3 linked regions of the Homo sapiens genome follow. The protein of the gene in region 1 purifies or fractionates together with the protein of each later gene. This does not show direct contact. Each region holds a gene or a part of one and is shown on either strand. Other genes may lie near its edges.

Region 1 (5,125 bases):
GGGGCCGCAGGTGGAGCTGCCTGCCAGTCCCGCGCCCTGCGCCCGCACTCCTCAGCCCTTGGGTGGTCGATGGCACTGAGCGCGCCCTGGAGCAGGGGGCGGCGCTGGTCGGGGAGGCTCGGGCCGCACAGGAGCCCACGGAGCGGGGGTCGGGGAGGCTCAGGCATGGCGGGCTGCGGGTCCCAAGCCCTGCCCCGCGGGAAGGCAGCTAAGGCGTGGCGAGAAATTGAGCACAGCAGCTGCTGGCTCAGGTGCTAAGCCCATCACTGCCCGCGGCCGGTGGGGCAGGCCGGCCACTCCGAGTGCGGGGTCCGCCGAGTCCACGCCCACCCGGAAATCGCGCTGGCCCGCAAGCGCCGCTCCCTCCACACCTCCCTGCAAGCTGAGGGAGCCGGCTCCGGCCTTGGCCAGCCCGGAAAGGGGCTCCCACAGTGCAGCGGCGGGATGAAGGGCTCCTCAAGTGCCGCCAAAGTGGGAGCCCAGGCAGAGGAGGCGCCGAGAGCGAGCGAGGGCTGTGAGGACTGCCAGCACGCTGTCACCTCTCACTGGGAGCCAGGCGGACCCTCCAGCCACAGCCCGGCCGACCCCTTTCCCACCAGTGCCAGCCACTAAGCCTGTCTGCTCCAAGCCCCTTTCCCGTTTCCCTGACCAATGTCCCTCGGGATTAGGGACCAAGGAGCAGCTGTCTAGGATGCGCGCCTTGCGTCTTCCATGCCCTCCCCTCTCCCTCCTCTTTGCATGCTGTTTCTCAGTTCCCAATAACCAGGCCACACAGAGATTCAAGCATTTGTTTCTTCTTTCCTACGCCATTGAAGAGGCTGACGATTATAATAATTACAATGAATTACAGAAGGAGGTGGGATCTCAGTCCTCCAGGGTCAGGGACTCTTAAACTACCTCCTTTCTCTCTTTGCTCAGCTCTTCCCCATACCCCTGTCTCAGTGTTTCTTCCTTTCCTCAAAATCCTCAACAGAGAAGCCAGAGCTGGGCAGGTGTGGGGTATGGGTTAGCCAGAGGTGTGCTGGGGTCAGGCCACCTCGCCGGTGGCATTCCGCCTTTTCTCACACACCCAGCGGTACACCTGCAGGCAGAAGTCATCGTTCCAGCGGCCATCCGGCTGGACTTCAACACAGTCTTCACTTCCACCCAGCTCGTGCCCGTGCCAATTATCTGGCTGAGTGACAGCCCAGTTCCTAAGGAGGCAAGAGAAAACTCGGACTCTGCCACGGTGGTGAGAAAGCGACTTACCCATCCTCCTCCTCTTCATGACCATTTTCCTTGAAGGCCGAGAGTGGAGCTGGGGTGTGCCCTGCTACCCAGTCTGGGGAGAACCCAACCGCAGAGAAAGATGTTTCCTATGCCCAGTCCCAGCAACCCTCACCCCCAGCCCAGAAGAGCACAGCTTTGGAGGGGTTGGAGTCTGGGGAGGAGAGGATTGGGGAATTTGGTCCCTGAGGGACGAGTCAGGGTAGCTTGGAGTGAAAGGCCAGGGGGCTGTCCCCAGAGAAATCTAACAAGGAGATGAGGGAAGAGGCCACTTACTTGTAGTTGTGCCTATAGTCTGTGCCATCCACCCATTTCCAAGAGCCATCACTGTCCGTGAGACCTATCCAGGTATTGAAGGGGTTCGTGTGTTGTACAATGAATTTCTGGAAACACAGGCAAACAGGAAATTTCTAGTCTCTTGTGCCTTTCTCCTCCCTCCATGCAGGCATGGAACTGTGGCCCCTCTCAGCCTTCCCCAGCCTGATCTGCCCTCAGGCTGAAGCACCAGCTCCCGACAAGACTGCTTCCTAGCTTTTTCTTCCGTCACTCTAGCTACTGTTCAGTGCACATTTGCTAGGCTAGACTTCGTGCTGTCTGTGCAAAGATGATCTCATTTAATCCTCAGAAGCTCTCTAAGATGGGCACTGCAGTGACCACATTTTGCAGGGAGTTGCAGAGCCAGAGAGCCAATCCTGTACCTGAGTTAGTGGCCACTGTCCCCTGTTCACAGCCCTGGGCCGGTGTCCCCCTTCATTCCCAGCTTATGGCTCTACCCAAGTTCCGGTTCTCTCCCTGTCTTCTGCCCACAGCCTCGAACTCCTGGGATCCCGACCCTGGTCCCTGCTCTTACTGCCCCCCAGACCCCAGACCCACTGAAGATCTCAGTTTCACTGGCCTCTCAAGTACATTGGCCCCTGGTAGCTCTCGCTTCTATGTGTAGCTGTCATTTCCTGAGATCTGTCAGGCCCGGGAGCTTCTAAGCTTGGACCCACTGCCCAGGGCCCCATTATGATCTAGCTACGTGGAGTCTGACAATCGGGGCAAAATAGGAAGACACCGGGGTGTGAGGAAGCAGCCCGGACAGCCAGTTGCCAGGGGCTTGGGTGAAAGTGGACTTCGAGCCTGCAGATAGCTCCCCGGGACCCACGCGCACCCACACTCCCAGCACGGTAGCCCCTCCAAGTGGCTTTCTCTTACACATACAGCTGTTCCTGGGGACCTAGGTCCCGTGGTTCGGTAGGGTAGGAGGGGAAGGTGTGGTCACCTGGTTTTGTGGAGAAAGTGGAGAGGGATGGATCCGTTGAGCAACGTGCACACTTAACAATTCCCTTTGACAGCCTGGAATTTTCCTTCCAACAGTATTTGAAGGACAATTGCCTAATTCTACTCTCACTCTCTAGAAAAACAACTAAGGTTGCAGTTATTCACCTCTTCCGATTGAGCATCAGAAACTGGGGCATCCCTAAATTCTGGAATCCCACAAATAGGACAAAGTCCCATGCATGAAGGGGCAGCCCTCAGAGGCAGGTGAGGCTGCTCCCCAAATTCAGAGGAGTCAACGGAGTTGGAGAGAAAGTGCCTGGAGACAACACACACTATGTGCTGCTACCTGCTGCCAGCCCTCCCTCCCATCACCACGAGAAACAGAACAACTGAGCAGACTACAAATTAGCAGTATCCAGCCCGCCGTGTTAAAGACTGAGAGGAGGAATCAAATCATGCCAGATGATCAGAGAAGACAGTCCGGGAGAATTCATTCCCCCTTTCCTGGGTGAACCATAGGAAAGAAAGCACTGTGCCCATTCACAAAAGTAATGGAGAAAATCATCATGGAACTTATGCCCCCAAAAAGAAAGAGGAAGATGAGGCAGATGAAAAATGAACTGTGATATCAAAAAGAGAGGTGAAAAATAGACTTTGAAAAGAAGCCTTGTTTCGGAATATGAGGGGATGTTGGAGAACAGTTTCTTTTTTATTATTATTATACTTTAAGTTTTAGGGTACATGTGCACAACGTGCAGGTTTGTTACATATGTATACATGTGCCATGTTGGTGTGCTGCACCCATTAACTCGTCATTTAACATTAGGTATATCTCCTAATGCTCTCCCTCCCCGCTCCCAAGAACAGTTTCTTTACATGCTTCAAAAATTTTAAAAAGAATGACATAAAACATGAAAGAAGATATAAAAAAAAAAGAGAACATGATAAGGAAAGGAAATGAAAAGTTTGAGCTACATACTAAAAAAAAAAGCCCAGGTGTGGTGGCTCACGCCTGTAATCCCAGCACTATGGGAGGCCAAGGCAGGTGAATCACCTGAGATCGGGAATTGGAGACCAGCCTGACCAACACGGAGAAACCTCATCTCCACTAAAAATACAAAATTAGCCAGGCGTGTTGGCGCATGCCTGTAATCCCAGCTACTTGGGAGGCTGAGGCAGGAGAATCGCTTGAACCTGGGAGGCGGAGGTTGTAGTGAGCCAAGATCGTGCCATTGCACTCCAGCCTGGTCAAAAAGAGCAAAACTCTGTCTTAAAAAAAAAAAAAAAAAAAAAAGCCAGGCGTAGTGGCTCATGCCTGTAATCCTAGCACTTTGGGAAGGCCAGGCGGGAGGATCACCTGAGGTCAGGAGTTCAAGACCAGCCTGGCCAACATGGTGAAACCTTGTCTCTACTAAAAATATAAATATTAGCCAGGCATGGTGGCAGGCACCTGTAATCCTAGCTACTCGGGAGACTGAGGCAGGAGAATTGCTTGAACCGGGAGGCAGAGCTTGCAATGAGTCGAGATCGTGTCACTGCACTCCAGCCTGGGCGAAAGAGCAAGTCTCCATTTCAAAAAATAAAAATAAACAAAAAATTTCAGATAAAACACTTGAGGGGCCGGGCGTGGTGGCTCACACCTGTAATCCCAGCACTTCAGGAGGCCAAGGCGGGCGGATCACGAGGTCAGGAGTTCAAGACCAGCCTGACCAACATGGTGAAACCCTGTCTCTACTAAAAAATATAAAAGTTAGCCAGGCACGATGGCGGGTGCCTGTAATCTCAGCTACTCGGGATACTAAGACAGGAGAATTGCTTGAACCTGGGAGGCAGAGGTTGCAGTGAGCCAAGATCGCGCCATTGCACTCCAGCCTGGGCGACAGAGCAAGACTCCATCTCAAAAAAAAAAAAAATTTTTTTTTTTTTTCAGATACAACACTTAAGGAACCTAGGAAAGGAAAGACTCAGACACATGGGAATAAGAGGTATCCTGGTCTCCTCACCTTTCCTATGGAAGTTATACAAACTTTTAGTTTTCAAAGCCAATAATTTTCAGCCTATTATTTAAAGTTATACAAGTAATCACTGGAATAACTCTAAATAAACTACATAGTTTCCAAAATACCATAAAGAAGAAAACAAAAAGAACACCTCTCACATAGCAATTGTAAGAAAATTAAGAAGCATGTAAAGCAGAAAAAAGAAAGGACTAGGGTTAAACATATCTATTAGAATGTAAATGAGACACTCACCTATTAAAAGAAAAGGTACTTATTAGATTTTTAAACATCAAAAACAAAACCTGCCAGGTGCAGTTTTTGGATTACAGTGGCTCAGACACCTGTAATCCCAATATTTTGGGAGGCCCAGGCGGGCGAATCGCTTGAGGCCAGGGGTTCAAGACCAGCCTGGGCAACATGGCACAACACCATTTCTACTAAAAATGCAAAAAACTACCCAGGTATGGTGGTGTGCACCTGTAGTCCCAGCTACTTGGGAGGCTGAGGTGGGAGAATCCGTTGAGCCCGGGAGGCACAGGTTACAGTGAGCTGAGATCATGCCACTGCACTCCAACCTGGGCGATAGAGCCAGATCT
Region 2 (8,128 bases), on another chromosome or scaffold:
ACAGGCTGGGTGCAGTGGCTCACGCCTGCAATCCCAGCACTTTGGGAGGCCAAGGCGGGCAGATCACCTGAGGTCAGAAGTTCGAGACCAGCCCGGCCAACGTGGTGAAACCCCGTCGTAACTAAATACACAAAAATTAGCTGGGTGTGGTGGCCAGTGCCTGTAATCACAGCTGCTCCACAGGTGGAGGCACAAGAATCGCTTGAACCCAGGAGGTGGAGGTTGCAATGAGCCATTGCATTCCAGCCTGGATGACAAGAGTGAAATTCCATCTCAAAAAAAGCGAAAAACAAAAAAAAAAAAACATTTAATACACCTAACCTACGGAGCATTGTAGCTTAGCTTAGCCTACTTTAAACACACTCCAACACTCACATTAGTTTTCAGTTTGGCTAAATCATCTAACACAAAGCGTATTTTATAATAAAGTGTTGGATATCTCATGTAATTTGCCAAATACAGTATACTGTAGATTATAGTACTGGATGTTTACCTTTGTGATCATGTGGCTGATTAGGAGCTGTGGCTCTCTGCTGCTGTCCAGCATCATGAAACAGTATCATACCACAGATCACTAGTCTGGAAAAATATCAAAATTCAAAATTTGAAGTGTGGTTTCTACTGAATGAGTATCACTTTCCTACTGTTGTAAAGCTGAACAGTTCTAAGTTGGACACTCATAAGTCAGAGACTGTATGTACTTTAATAAGGTTCTAAAATTAATCAACAAATGTTAAGTCAGTGTATCAGGTTCAGTGCTATGGGGGTACTATGAGAATTCTTGTCCTTATGGAGCCAAGTAGAGGGATCAAGATATAAGATAGACATATATTTATATTCAAAGTTAATAGGAAGTACATTACATCTTGCTACAGAAGTAGAGCAGTGCTGCTGATACACATTCTTATAGAATGTCCAATACCATCCCCTCAAAGCACGTGTATTCCAGTAGGGGGAAAGCCAATAAACACAAATGTGAAGTCAGATAGTGGTAAGTACTACAAAGAAGAATAGAAGAGAAAAGAATAAGGAGTGACAAGGGCAGGGCTGGGAAGTGGGGAAATGTTGTATTTGATACACTGCTCAAGGAAGGTATATATGAGGAAGTTACATTTAAGCTGAGACCTTAGTGAAGTCAGCAAAGAGCCATGCAATGGCCTGGATGGTCTCGATCTCCTGACCTCAGATGATCCGTCCTCCTCAGCCTCCCAAAGTACTGGGATTACAGGCGTGAGCCACCACACCCAGCCTTTATTATACTTTGAGTTCTGGAATATATGTGCAGGTTTGTTACATAGGTATAAATGTACTATGGTGGTTTGCTGCACCCATCAACCCATCATCTACATTAGGTATTTCTCCTAATGCTATCCCTCCTCTAGCCCCCCACCCCGCAATAGGCCCCTGTGTGTGATGTTCCCCTCCCTGTGTCCATGTATTCTCTTTGTTCAACTCCCACTTATGAGTGAGAACATGTGGCGTTTGTTTTTCTGTTCCTGTGTTTGCTGAGAATGATGGTTTCCAGCTTCATCCATGTTACTGTAAAAGACATGAACTCATCCTTTTTTATGGCTGCATAGTTTTCCATGGTGTATATGTGCTACATTTTCTTTATCCAGTCTGTCATTGATGGGCATTTGGGTTGGTTCCAAGTCTTTACTATTGTGAATAGTGCTGTAATAAACATACATGTGCATGTGTCTTCATAGTAGAATGATTTATAATCCTTTGGGTATATACCCAGTAATGGGATTGCTGGGTCAAATGGTATTTCTGGTTCTAGATCCTTGGGGAATTGCCACACTGTCTTCCACAATGGTTGAACTAATTTACACTCCCACCAACAGTGTAAAGGTGTTCCTATTTCTCCACATCCTCTCCAGCATCTGTTGTTCCCCGACTTTTTAATGATTGCCACTCTAACTGGTGTGAGATGGTATCTCATTGTGATTTTGATATGCATTTCTCTAATGACCAGTGATGATGAGCTTTTTTTCATATGTTTGTTGGTTGCATAAATGTCTTCTTTTGAGAAGCATCTGTTCATATCCTTTGCCCACTTTTTGATGGGGTTGTTTTTTTCTTGTAAATTTGTTTAAGTTCCTTGTAGATTCTGGATATTAGACCTTTATCAGATGGATAGATTGCAAAAATTTTCTCCCATTCTGTAGGTTGCTTGTTCACTCTGATGATAGTTTATTTTGCTGTGCAGAAGCTCTTTAGTTTAATTAGATCCCATTTATCAATTTTGGTTTTTGTTGCCATTGCTTTTGGTGTTTTAGACATGAAGTCCTTGCCCATGCCTATGTCCTGAATGGTAATGCCTAGGTTTTCTTCTAGGGTTTTTATGGTTTTAGGTCCTATGTTTAAGTCTTTGATCTTTCTTGAATTAATTTTTGTATAAGGTATAAAGAAGGGGCCCAGTCTCAGTTTTCTGCGTATGGCTAGCCAGTTTTCCCAACACCATTTATTAAATAGGGAATCCTTTCCCTATTGCTTGTTTTTGTCAGGTTTGTCAAAGATCAGATGGTTGTAGATGTGTGGTGTTATTTCTGAGGCCTCTATTCTGTTCCATTGGTCTATATATCTGTTTTGGTACAAGAATCATGCTGTTTTGGTTACTGTAGCCTTGTAGTGTAGTTTGAAGTCAGGTATTGTGATGTCTTCAGCTTTGTTCTTTTTGCTTAGGATTGTCTTGGCTATATGGGCTCTGTTTTGGTTCCGTATGAAATTTAAAGTAGTTTTTTTCTAATTCTGTGAAGAAAGTCAATGGTAGCTTGATGGGGATAGCATTGAATCCATAAGTTACTTTGGACAGTATGGCCATTTTCACAATATTGATTCTTACTGTCCATGAGCATGGAATGTTTTTCCATTTGTTTGTGTCCTCTCTTATGTCCTTTAGCAGTGGTTTGTAGTTCTCCTTGAAGAGGTCCTTCACATCCCTTGTAAGTTGTATTCCTAGATATTTTATTCTCTTTGCAGCAATTGTGAATGGCAGTTCACTCTTGATTTGGCTCTCTGTTTGTCTGTTATTGGTGTATAGGAATGCTTGTGATTTTTGCACATTGATTTTTTATCCTGAGACTTTGCTGAAGTTGCTTGTCGCTTAAGGAGATTTTGGGCACCACTGGTCCCACAGAAATACAAACTACCGTCAGAGAATACCACAGTATTCTCTAATACTATAAACACCTCTATGCAAATAAAATAGAAAATCTAGAAGACACGGATAAATTCCTGGACACATACACCCTCCCAAGACTAAACCAGGAAGAAGTCGAATCCCTGAATTGACCAATAATAAGTTCTGAGATTGAGGCAGTAATTAATAGCCTACCAACCAAAAAAAGCCCAGGACCAGATAGATTCACAGCCGAATTCTACTGGAGGTACAAAGTTTCCATTCCTTCTGAAACTCCATTCCTTCTGTAACTATGCCAAACCGTAGAAGAAGAGGGACTCCTCCCTAACTCATTTTATGAGGCCAGAATCATCCTGATACCAAAACCTGGCAGAGACACAACAAAAAAAATTTAAGGCCAATATCCCTGATGAACATCGATGCGAAAATCCTCAATAAAATACTGGCAAACCCAGGCCAGGTGCGGTGGCTCACGCCTGTAATCTCAGCACTTTGGGAGGCTGAAGTGGGTGGATCACGAGGTCAGAGGTCGAGACCATCCTGGCCAACACAGTGAAACCCCATCTCTACTAAAAATACAAAAAAAATTAGCCAGGCGTGGTGGCAGGCACCTGTAGTCCCAGCTACTCAGGAGACTGAGGCAGGAGAATGGCATGAACCCGGGAGGCGGAGTTTGCAGTGAGCCAAGTTCACGCCACTGCATACCAGCCTGGGCGACAGAGCAAGACTCTGTCTCAAATAATAATAATAATAATAATAATAATAATAATAATAATAATAAATAAAAATAAAAAATAAAATACTGGAAAACTGAATTCAGCAGCACATCAAAAAGCTTATCCACCACGATCAAATCTGCTTCATCCCTGAGATGCAAGGCTGGTTCAACATACACAAATCAATAAATGTAATCCATCTCATAAACAGAACCAATGACAAAAACCACATGATTATCTCAATATATGCAGAAAAGGCCTTTGATAAAATTCAACACTCCTTCATGCTAACAACACTCAATAAACTGATATTGATGGAACGTATCTCAAAATAATAAGCGCTATTTATGACAAACCCACAGCCAGTATCATACTGAATGGGCAAAAACTGGAAGCATTCCCTTTGAAAACCGGCACAAGACAAGGATACCCTCTCTCACCTCTCCTGTTCAACATAGTGTTGGAAGTTCTGGCCAGGGCAATCAGGCAAGAGAAAGAAATAAAGGGTATTCAATTAGGAAATGAGAAAGTCAAATTGCCTCTGTTTGCAGATGACATGATTGCTGTATTTCTTAAAAACTAGTACTTGCATCTAGAAGCTTGATGAAATTTGGGTTCAATTTTTTGGCAAGAATACTTTATAGGTGGGAATATGTGCTTATATCAGAAGAAATATAATGTTTTGTTTATCTCTTCTTAACATGTAAGTAGCCACTGATTATTCCATAGATCCATTAATTCATTAATGAATCATTACAAAATTCTGGTATTTTAATTCTATCATTCCTTTATTTATTTGCTAGAATACTTACCATGAAGAGAATCTTTCCCTCACCAACTATTTGGTTAACCTGAGCTATAGTTGTATAGGAAAGGCAGGATAAAGGCTTGATTATTTTCTTTTGTTTCCCTAACATCCTCAAAAACTGACCAAAGAGTACTTTATTTTAATATACTATGAATTCATAGATTATAACACTTTTTTTTTTTTTGGCGACAGGGTCTTGCTCTGTCACCCAGTTTGGAGTGCAGTGGTGCCATCACAGCTCATTGCAGCCTTGACCTCCTGGGCTCAAGTAATCCTCCTGCCTCAACCTCCTAAGTAGCTAGAACTACAGGCACCAAATACCACTCCTGGCTAATTTTTAAAATTTTTTGTAGAGATGGGGTCTTGCTATGTTGCCCAGGCTGGTTTTGAACTTCTGGCATCAAGCAGTCCTCCCGCTTTGGCCTCCCAAAGTACTGGGGTTATAGGTGTGAGCCACTACACCAGGCCACAGATGATAATACTTTTTGTGTGTTTCAATCCATTGCCATTATTATTCTGTTTTGGTACTCACATTGTCACATTTTTGGCCAGCTTCTTCAAATTGGCTGAGTCAAAAAGACTCATGACCTAGTAGTCACTGATAACTTCTGTGCTTTTTGCTGTGAAAGATCTGAGCTCATCTACTTTTTGTGTCCCAGACCTTAAGTCAGCCATTTTTCAGAGGAGTCCTGGTTATTTTTAGTGGAAAATTATATTTAGCATTCTTTTTAATGGATATATCACTAAAAGTACAAGATATTATTTTTAGTTTTTAAAATTATGAAAGTAATGAAGCTATGTTATAATGTTTCATTTTAAAATTACAGAGTTTCTGTTCTTTAACAGGATTGGCGAGCGTGCTATTCTACTGGGAGGACTCATCGTTGTATGGGTTGGCTTCTTTATCTTGTTACCTTGGGGAAATCAATTTCCCAAAATACAGTGGGAAGGTATAGCCATACATAATTCTATAATGTTAACCTCTGTTATTTATCTAAAATCAACAAGTAATGCACTGCAATGGTTTTGTTTTTACAGATTTGCACAATAATTCAATCCCTAATACCACATTTGGGGAAATTATTATTGGTCTTTGGAAGTCTCCAATGGAAGATGACAATGAAAGACCAACTGGTTGCTCGATTGAACAAGCCTGGTGCCTCTACACCCCGGTGATTCATCTGGCCCAGTTCCTTACATCAGCTGTGCTAATAGGATTAGGCTATCCAGTCTGCAATCTTATGTCCTATACTCTATATTCAAAAATTCTAGGACCAAAACCTCAGGTAAGCCAGGTACCCTGACATTGCAATTATAGAAAATATACTTGTAAGCACTCAACATTTTTTGCTGCCATTCTCTATTTTTACACAGACTGATTTGAGGGATTTTTATCATATTCAGCATTTAAAATTTTTAAAAATCCCACAACTTCTATAAAGTTCATTCTTGGGTAGGTTATGTGGGTTATAGTTTTGGATACAGAAGTTGTAGGAGTGGCATTGTGGTAGAGTGTAAAGTGGCACAGTGGAGTCAGCCAAATATGGCTTCAAACCTCTTGAACAAGTTACTTAAACTTTCTGAGTTTCAGCTTCTACCTTTGTTAAACAGGCATAACACCTGTCATCGAAACTTGTGAACATTACAAATGATGTATTTAAAGCACCTACCTCAGTGACTGGCATGTAGCAGGTACAAAATAAATGTTAGCTTTAAAAGGTATTTTAATCAATTTTATTATTCCCAGGGCTTCAGCAGACAGTAAGTTTTTCCCTTTACACTCCTTTTATTTTTTTTAATCTGACTTAATATTAAATGCTATATTTATAGGAGGCATTTTATGTTTAATTTAAAAGTAAAAGATGCAGAAATGATTCTTGTAAGTTTGCTGTAGTTTGGTAATACCATTTCTTTGCTTTTAAATAACTAAACCCCAATATCAATCTGCTTGTCCTCCATTTCACCCCCAACAGGGTGTATACATGGGCTGGTTAACAGCATCTGGAAGTGGAGCCCGGATTCTTGGGCCTATGTTCATCAGCCAAGTGTATGCTCACTGGGGACCACGATGGGCATTCAGCCTGGTGTGTGGAATAATAGTGCTCACCATCACCCTCCTGGGAGTGGTTTACAAAAGACTCATTGCTCTTTCTGTAAGATATGGGAGGATTCAGGAATAAACTAGCTAAGACTGTGATGGAAACTACTTGCTGTGTGGCACTTCCTGGTCTAAAGCTCTGCTAGACAATTGCGGTGAGCCAGTCTCCAAGAATCAGACTACAGATATTGCAGATTTTGAAGAACAAGAACATATGTTGAATAACAGAGAGAATTCTACATGTCATTGTGAATAGTAGGTTATATAAAAACATACTAGATGATAATTTCCTTACCTCAGAAATGAAATATTATTCTTATAATACCTTTTTGTGGTTGCATGAACTAATGAGTGAATGGACAATGATGAATAAATGTGAAGCTGTATTCTTAATACCCACTGCAGAAGTGTCATTAAAATAATATACAGTGGAACCAGAAAGAGGGTTCTGTAAGAATTAGCCATAGCAGAACAAAATTATAGAATTTTAAATACCTCTACCCAAGTAGAGGTATTTTTATTCAGACACCTACTTTTTATTTATAAAAAAATGCATTTTCTATTATCAAGTTCACTTATGAAATAAAAATTATAACACATATTTTCCATTTAGCGTGCCTAACATCCTACCTTGCCTTCTATGAGTCTTTCTTCTAATACTACACCTCTGCCTTATTTTAGTTCAGGGTTTCACTAAGTAACCCCTACATTAATAAATGAGTATGGATAATGCTAATATTTGAGCAATACAGAGGATTAAGAGATCAAGATACTTCACTGCCTATTAGCCTAATAGGGATACCTACTTTCTTTCAAATGCCAAAAATTCACATTAGAAACATAATCCAGATATGTGTTATTTTATATATATATATACAAAACAGTAAATGGTTTCTTAAAATTATTGCTATTTTTCAACCCCCTTAAACTGGAGAAAAACATTTAATTAGTAAAACATTAATTAATTTACTTTAATTTTTCCCATCTCTCAGTAGTGGCGGGGAGGAACACAACAGTTTTCAATCTATGTCTGCATAGTTGTGTAGAGCTGCAGAATTTTAGTTGGATTTTTAATTTGGATGATCCCTGACAGCCCCAAACTAGTCAGGCTAATAAGTATTTGAGGCAAAATGGCTTTAATCTAACAATTTACTGAGTTTACCTGAAGTTGGCTAAATAACACTGTATGTTTAACTTCTACCTCTACATAAGTTGAATGCTGATAAAAGGAACTAGTAGATAACTATGTATATTGATAAGCACTGTTAAGAAAATGCAAAAATATTTCTAAACACTTTTCCAAATGTTTTCTACTTTAAGTTAGAAATAGTTTCAAATCTGAGAATAAACACTATATAATC
Region 3 (8,128 bases), on another chromosome or scaffold:
TGAGCCACACAATCACAAGGGTAAACAACCAGTACTGCATCGTGTACTGTATTCCATACGTTACATCAGACATTCAACACTTTGTTACAGAATAGGCTTTGTGTTAGATGATTTTGCCCAACTGTAGGCTAATGTAAATGTTCTAAGCACATTTAAGGTAGACTAGGCTAAGCTATGATGTTCAGTAGGGTAGGTGTATTGAATGCATTTTCAACTTACAATATCTACAACCTACAATGAGTTTATTGGGACATAACGCCATTGTATGTCAAGACGCATCTGTATAATTAAAAAATTTGGAGATAAAACCACAATTAAATCCCATATGTTAAACCTTCCAGCACAGTAAGAACAGACAAAGTAGGACTGCAGCTTCCCCGCTGGTGAAGACCACACACGTGCACACACACACACGTACAACAGGAAAAGGTCTCATGGCCGCTGTTTAATGGGCCATGGGCAGGGCACAGCTATGGGCATGGGATACACTGCCCTTCTAGACTATGCCTGTTTCTCTGTGGCTTCTTGTACTTGTGACTCTTAATCTCCCTAATAATTACCAGAGAGAAGATCAAGCAATTAGGGACTAGATTTCTCTCTTTAAAGTATCATTATAAACTCCTACATTTAACCATATCTGATGTGTTGCAATGCACTGAAGTTAGACTTTTTTTTTTTTTTTTTTTTTTTGAGACAGAGTTTTGCTCTTGTTGCCCAGGCTGGAGTGCAATGGCACGATCTCGGCTCACTGCAACCTCTGCCTCCCAGGTTCAAGCAATTCCCCTGCCTCAGCCTCCCAAGTAGCTGGGATTACAGGCATGCACCACCACGCCCGGCTAATTTTTTGTATTTTTTTTTTAGTAGAGATGGGGTTTCTCCATGTTGGTCAGGCTGGTCTCGAACTCCCAACCTCAGGTGATCCACCTGCCGTGGCCTCCCAAAGTGCTGGCATTACAGGCGTGAGCCACCGCGCCTGGCCTGAAGTTAGATTCTTATTGATGCTCAACTCACCTGTCTTTGTCAAGTAGGAGCCTATTCAGTTTGGCTCCTGCGTCTCTTTACATAAACCCAGAAGTTTTTTATAACTTCCTTGCTTTTCTGGGAAGTTCCAACTTATAGATTTCCTACCTCAAACCCTGCATCAGCCATTTCTCAAGGAAGCTGCAGTTCCTTTTAGGGGGAATTGGTATTTAGAGACCACAAATCTGAGTGCTAGGGGTGCTCATTGCTACTAGGTTGGTTACTGACTGGGGCCTGGATTTCTGGTCATTTATAAGGAGAGCATCCACAGCTGCTTGGACTGCTAGAATCTTTAGCAGATTCCCAGGTAGTGAAAAACTGGATTCATCTTCTGTTGGAAAAATGTTAACTGTCAGAGCTCAGTTTAAACCATGGGACAGGATAAAAGGCCAGGGCAATGCTCCTCATGCAATGCAGGGCATTAAAGCCTGGAACGGCTGGGAAACATCCTAACTTTCTCAGCAGTTTTCAACAACCTACTATACAACAAGTAAGAGGATGGCAACAAGAAAGACCTCAAAAGAAAGAAACAACTTGCATTTAGGGATACCCTATGGGCAGAGAACACAGACTTACTAACTTGGGTATTCTCACTAAAGACCTAGGGCAAAAAACTTAGACTAAACAAAAAATTATTCTCCCCTGCCATTTCTGACAGTTGGGGACTTTCCATTAAAAAGTACGTCAGGAGGTTAACCCAGAAACCTGTAAGCTCAAAGGAAAATGTGTAGTCATATAATGAGATTATATAGCAAAGATCTCCAGCCTATGCCTCCTATCCCCCTGCCGAGACTAAATTTTTCCCACAGGTCTGGCCTGCTCGGTACTTAGAACCTAATTGCCAAAACTAATCTCTCTGCATGACAGAAAGCAGATCAATGGTTGCCTGGAATCCAAGAAGGGGAGGAATACTGCAAAGGGGGATAATAAGGCTTTTGGCAGGTGATGGAAACATTCATATCTTAATTGTGATGGTGACTACATAGGTGTAAATATTTGTCAAAACTCTTCAAACTGTATTCTTCTGTTGTATGGAAAGCACACCTCAGTAAAGTTGATTTTAAAAAAATCAGATGCCAGAGTTTTAAAGATCAGCAGATTGCATTTTAAAAATCCAGATTATCCAGGCTGGGCTCAGTGGCTCATGCCTGTAATCCCAGCACTTTCGGAGGCCAAGGCGGGCGGATCACAAGGTCGAGATGGAGACCATCCTGGCCAACATGGTGAAACCCCGTTTCTACTAAAAATACAAAAATTAGCTGGGCGTGGTGGCGCGCCTGTAGTCCCAGCTACTTGGGAGGCTGAGGCAGGAGAATCGCTTGAATACAGGAGGTGGAGGTTGCAGTGAGCTGACATGGCGCCACTGCACCCCAGCCTGGCGACAGAGCGAGACTCCATATATATATATAAAAAAAAATCCAGAATTCCAACTGCTCTTGAAAAACTGGAAGATTTAGCCTCACTGAGCTGACATTTCCTTTTAGCTACAATGGCTGGAGCTCACTAGCTGTCGGCTTTTTCAGATGGGTATCTGCCTTTCTATTTTGCCACAAGAAACTTCTATTCCAAACTAGCTTTATCCAGAACAAATTATATTAATCAAAAGAAACAGAAGTTCAGTTCCTTTTCTCTTCCCAAAAGATGTTATGATTGGGGTTCAAGCAAAGAGAGTAAGTGTATAAACGAGAAGCTACGAATCAGGCATAAGTAGAAAAAGAAACAAGAGGAGATGGAAAAGTAAAAGAACCAGGTGCTGTTAATGTCACATAAGTCAAGAAGGCAAGAGTTTCAGGGTAATGGGTTAAATGAGCTGAGGAGGACAAAGGGTGAGAACGAGAATAGAGTACTGAATATGGCAAGGAAACAGAATGACCTTTCATGAGAATGGTGTTAGTGTACTAGCAAGATAGAGCACAGGTCTGAGTCAGCATGTTAAGGAGGTGGACAGCTAGGAAACAAAAGGATCTGTACACACAACACATTCAAAAGTCTCAGCAAAAGGAGAGTCTGGGGTCAGAAGAGGGACGGCAAAGTCAAGGAAAAGCTTTGTTAAGGAAGGGGAACGGGGAACATTAGTGGTTGGAAGGAGAGGAGCCTGACAGCAGAAATCAGAAAGCAAGGAACTCACGATACAGGCTAGAAGAGCCAGCTTAATGAAGGGACAAACACTGCTTTCTATTAGCACCAACCATCTTCTAGTGACAACTGTACTAGGAAAGCCTGGCGTGGGTTTTTAAGGAATGTGGATATAAGAATGCAGAAGGAGAAGCAGTCTTGAGGCACCTCCTTCCAGAGCACCGCTCCTCTGGCTCTCCCCTGTGAGAGGCCTCAATGAAGTGTGGGTATTGAGAAGAGGCCTCAGTCAGGGCAAACCAAGAGTGCGCGTGGCAGTACCTGAGAGATCCCCAGTGATGGAGGAGGTGCCGAAGTAGTAGCCGCGGGGCAGGCGGACTCCGGGCACTTCAATGCAGTCCCTCCACTCATGCTTGCCATCAATATCCATCATTATCTAGAATAAAAAGAGAGATAAATCAGGGTCAGGCCATGGGAGCAAGAGCGACACAGCCCACACCACCATCTGGTCCAGGACAAGGACTCTCACCGTCAAATGCCTCTTGACGTAGCGAATCACCAGGAAGGTGTCGTAATGAAGATTGCGGACAATGGCTGTGCAGCCTCCCAGCTCTGTAGGCCGCCCATCCCGCTCATGATCATAGCTGAGGGAGCCGTTGTTCACCATGGCTGAGATGTAGGGGAATACCCGCTGGAAAGCAGAGAGGGGGAAGCAGACACTAAGGAAGAGCACATAGGAACGCCTGTACAAACAGCAACAGGAATTCAGCACATACAAGTTGAGCCCCTTACAGCAGAATAGGCAGCCACTCGACCTCATTGTCAGCAGCCCCTGAGAGCCCACATTCAGATGGTCTCTCAAGGGAAATGGGCCCAGGAAGCGACTACACTTGGTATTTGCCTTCAGTAATTCTCTTGGCTCCTGAACTGGGGTGGGCCTGAAGTGGTCCTCCTAAGACGCTGGAGTCTGACTTGAATGCCCCAAGGTCACCATTTGGCACTTATGTGCCGCCTAATACCAGGGGTTTCCTTTTCGTGTATATGTACCTATCTCCCCAACTGCCACATAAGCTTCTTGAAGAAAAAATTCATTCATCACGTCTTCATATGTCTAAACTTCAGCCCCATCTCCTCCCAACCATGGTTCTGCACACAGCGGGTATTCTGAAAATACCTGTTTGAGCAGGGGAATCTTTCCATTCAGGATAGCTCTTTTCAATTCTAAAATTCTATAAGCATATAAGGCTAAATGGATTAGAACTCAGAACATGGAACGGGGTTGCTGGATGGGCTCAGCCAGCCACAATGACTGTCCTTAGTCAAAAGACTTTCCAGCCCACTTAAGCCTCCTCCACACGTAACTTCTCCGAATAATAATAAGAGGGCAAGGTTCTCCCTTAACAGGGAGAAAATTGCAAGTTTTCCCATAAGCCACTCATTTTCCCATCTATTTCAGGGGCCCTCTCTCCCCAGTAGAGTTGTAGGAGCAATTCTTCCTTAGAAATGGCGAACTAATCATTCCAGAACAAGCCCAATGCCAAGGCAGTGCAAAAAGGCAGGGTAGTGAGGTGGTGAAGGGGTAACATGAGGCATGCCACTCCTTTGGGGAGTATTTGTCCCTTTGTCCCAAATGGTTAACATGCAAGATGGAGATGCAGTCGAGACCAGAGACCGGGGACTCCTGAGACAACCACATGGACTTGAAACAGCAACAAATGTTGGATGGACACATGGGAATGAGGGATGCTCATGATGAGCCAAGAACTGAGTACCTGGACTCCTGGAGAATATCGCCTCTTCTGGGCCTGAGAGGGTCCAGCAGGTTATGATAAAAACAAGAGAGGGCACAGAAGACAGGAGACCAAGTCAGAAAGACACAGCCACAGAAGAGCTATGACCCAGCTGTGATGGATGAACAAACCAACTTAAATCCCCAAACAGAATTTTAGGGTCCCTGAAGGGCATCCGTGAAGTCTTTGCACCCTCAAGATGATAGGCAAAACCATATGCACGGGTGCTTGTACATTTTTCTGAGGAGAGGGTCTGTTACTATATCAGATTCTCAAAGGGGTCCCCTAGGAAGACCGCTCTAACCCATAGAGGGTCCTGAAGCTTTTGGAAGGCACTTTATAAAACACATAGCAGTACGCTGTCCAGGCACGCCGCACTTATGTCTCTGGGAGTCAGTCTCAAGTTTGTCTGTACCCAGCCTACTGTATTTCTATAGCAAGGGGAAAGAGGAGACAACAGGGCTAAATTCTTCCAAATTCAAGACATCCTTTACTATCCAGGATCTCAGGAAACAGCTCCTGCCCAGAAGACCAAAATCTTGCCACTTGAGAGACTATGAAACTAACTCTAATCCAAAGGGATCACTTACCCTCTAACTGAGCCTTATGGTCATATATTCCCAAATAACTATTGTCATTCTAACCTACCACACATAGGCAAGGAAGAAGCTCCATGGAGGCATTGCAGAATGACAGATTTAGAAAATCATCAGGCGTGAGGGTATTAAGCTCTGCTCCAGCAAACAGCTGCAGTTCTAAGCCATTAGCGACAAGAGGTACCTACACAAGCTCAGCTCAGCTCTGCCCTGTGGGACAGGTAGGCGAGGGTACAGAACTCAAACCCTTCACTCCTTTAATACGGTGAACACCTACTACAAGCCAGGTACTGTTCCAGATGCTGAGGGTCCAAAGAGAAACAAGACAGACAGGAATGGAATTAAGATCAGAGTGGAAGAAACAAACAACAAAGAAGCAAATAAAATTATTTCAGATAGTGAAAAATGCTATAAGGAAAATAAAATAGGTAATACAAGGGATGGGCAAGGGAACCTCTCCCTGAGGAGGCAATATCTGAGCTGAGACTCAAGTAATTAGAGGGAGTCCACCAAAAGATCTGAGGGCACAAGAAGCATGAGGGTGGCACATTCAAGGAACTGGAAACAGATCAGTCAGAATCACAGCTTGTGAGAAGAGGCTGCCATGAGGCAAGGCAGCACCCACGGCACTGGGCTCCATGGGCCACAGCCAGGAGTCCGAGGCTGCAGTGCAGATCCCCTGCCGTCCTCCTCTTAACACCACTGGCAGAATTCATACAGGACACAGAAAGGCATGACATCAATCCGTGGATGATTAAACTGGCATGAAGTTAATCTTCAACAACTACCATTTAGAACAAGGAAATGGTGAGCATGTTATCAAGCAGTTTACAGAAACTGGCATCTGAGAGTATGCTCATAATTTCAGTGACAATTAAGAAAAAGGGATTAAAAATGCCCTGTGGAGCTCTGATGAGCCCAAGGCTTCCTTCACTCATCACCTCTAGTAACCCTGATTAGAAGTTTAAGTTGCAACTTTAAAGAGATAGCAATCTCCTATGTTAGCTTGCTTAGAAAATAAACAAATAATAAAGAGACAGCAATCCTTAGCCTAAGGGTGCCTTACTCTTCCCAAGGCTGGTGTGGACCCAGTTCCAGGTAACAGCCAGAGGCATGCTGGACCTTGGGAGCACCTGAAGGAGCTTGTTAACTGCACGTATACATGGGTCCCTCAGTCAAAGAGTCTCATTCGTATGGCTAGAGTGGGGTGCAGGATTGTTTTTTGTTTGTTTTTTTGAGATGGAGTCTCACTCTGTCACCCAGGCTGGAGTGCAGTGGCGAAATCTTGGCTCACTGCAACCTCCACCTCCTGGGTTCAAGCAATTCTCCTGCCTCAGCCTTATGAGTAGGTGGGATTACAGGCGCTCGCCACCATGCCCAGCTAATTTTTGTATTTTTAGTAGAGATGGGGTTTCACCATGTTGGTCAGGCTGGTCTCGAACTCCTGATCTCGTGATCTGCCCGTCTTGGCCTCCCAAAGTGCTGGGATTACAGGCGTGAGCCACCGCACCCAGCCAGGATTATGTATTTTTAAAAAGCACCACAGAAGGCTGTGATGTGCAGCCAAATTGAAGAAACGCTGCACCAGACAGGGAGCCTCACAGCTTTGCAACTACAGAGAATCTGTCTACTTCGGCAACACGAGTTGGCCTTCAACTTTTAACCTCACATTAGTGTAAGTCACTAAATGCCATCTTATTTTCTACGCCTAGTCAAGAGTTCCTGGAAGTATTTCTTGGATAACCACTAATTTCACACAGGAGCAATTTTGTTTTTCCCCTAGAAAGCACTCTGTAAGTTAGAACCAAAGATTGAAGAATCACACTGGTTCAGGCAAGGTGGTAGTTTTATTCCTAATTTAAGAGTCACCAGAAAGGAGAAACTCTCACCTGTTTTATCATCCAAAGGACTGTTGTTTAAAGGGTGGAGAAATGTTTTCAACTTTTTGTACTACAAGACTACTTTTAAAAAAGTGTTTTTTGAAGACCTCTACGGGATAACTGTATCTTCAGCATATTTCGATGGAAAAGACACCCATTAGCTTGTGGATTTATGGATTCTAGGCTAAAATTCCAAATGGCCTCTGTAATTAGGGAGACCTGAGTTCTAACTGCAGTTATGTCACTTATAGCTGTGTAACCCTTCGGTGGATTACATCACCTCTTTGAGATTCTATTTCCTCACTGTAAACAGAACAATACAAAGCTCACAGGGTTCATTATGAAGATGAAATGAGATATGCGAAGCATTTAGTACAATGTCTTGGTGTTCAGGAGGGAGTCAATAAACATTCAATCAGTGACTAGTGTATTTCTAGATACAAATATCGTTCACAGGTACTCATATATATATAAACACAAAGCCAAACATACATCTTCTAAAGCACGAATTCCCAGACCACTGGCTGTGATCAACCATTAATATTTCCAAAAATATTTTGGAGAGTATTAGATTTGGCTTCTTTTTATTGCCTACTAAAAATATTAAAATACAATAATGACAGAACAATCATCTATAATAAACATCATTTTACAAAGGGACACTTTAACACCAAAAGATGAGAGAGAACAATGTAATTTCATAATGAAACAACTGAATACATTTAGCACTTAAGAAAAAGAACTTCATTATTATGATTCTTGCACCAGT

The links.
Region 2: the proteins of ASGR2 (region 1) and MFSD8 purify together in Homo sapiens (affinity purification with mass spectrometry; 3 studies listed by BioGRID and IntAct, with this or other methods). This does not show direct contact.
Region 3: the proteins of ASGR2 (region 1) and LMAN2L purify together in Homo sapiens (affinity purification with mass spectrometry; 4 studies listed by BioGRID and IntAct, with this or other methods). This does not show direct contact.

Annotation. Positions count from the first base shown.
Region 1 is NC_000017.11:7,100,548-7,105,672, forward strand, and holds the end of ASGR2 (asialoglycoprotein receptor 2), read right to left. Parts: intron 1,650-5,125; coding exon 1,543-1,649; intron 1,194-1,542; coding exon 1,028-1,193; 3' UTR 779-1,027; downstream 1-778. UniProt on the Homo sapiens protein: Mediates the endocytosis of plasma glycoproteins to which the terminal sialic acid residue on their complex carbohydrate moieties has been removed. The receptor recognizes terminal galactose and N-acetylgalactosamine units.
Region 2 is NC_000004.12:127,919,351-127,927,478, reverse strand, and holds part of MFSD8 (major facilitator superfamily domain-containing protein 8), read left to right. Parts: intron 1-5,515; coding exon 5,516-5,619; intron 5,620-5,707; coding exon 5,708-5,955; coding exon of another isoform or gene 5,956-5,964; exon of another isoform or gene 5,965-6,642; coding exon 6,643-6,849; 3' UTR 6,850-8,128. UniProt on the Homo sapiens protein: Outward-rectifying chloride channel involved in endolysosomal chloride homeostasis, membrane fusion and function. Conducts chloride currents up to hundreds of picoamperes.
Region 3 is NC_000002.12:96,708,242-96,716,369, forward strand, and holds part of LMAN2L (VIP36-like protein isoform 2 precursor), read right to left. Parts: intron 4,899-8,128; coding exon of another isoform or gene 4,866-4,898; intron 3,785-4,865; coding exon 3,623-3,784; intron 3,530-3,622; coding exon 3,415-3,529; intron 1-3,414. UniProt on the Homo sapiens protein: May be involved in the regulation of export from the endoplasmic reticulum of a subset of glycoproteins. May function as a regulator of ERGIC-53.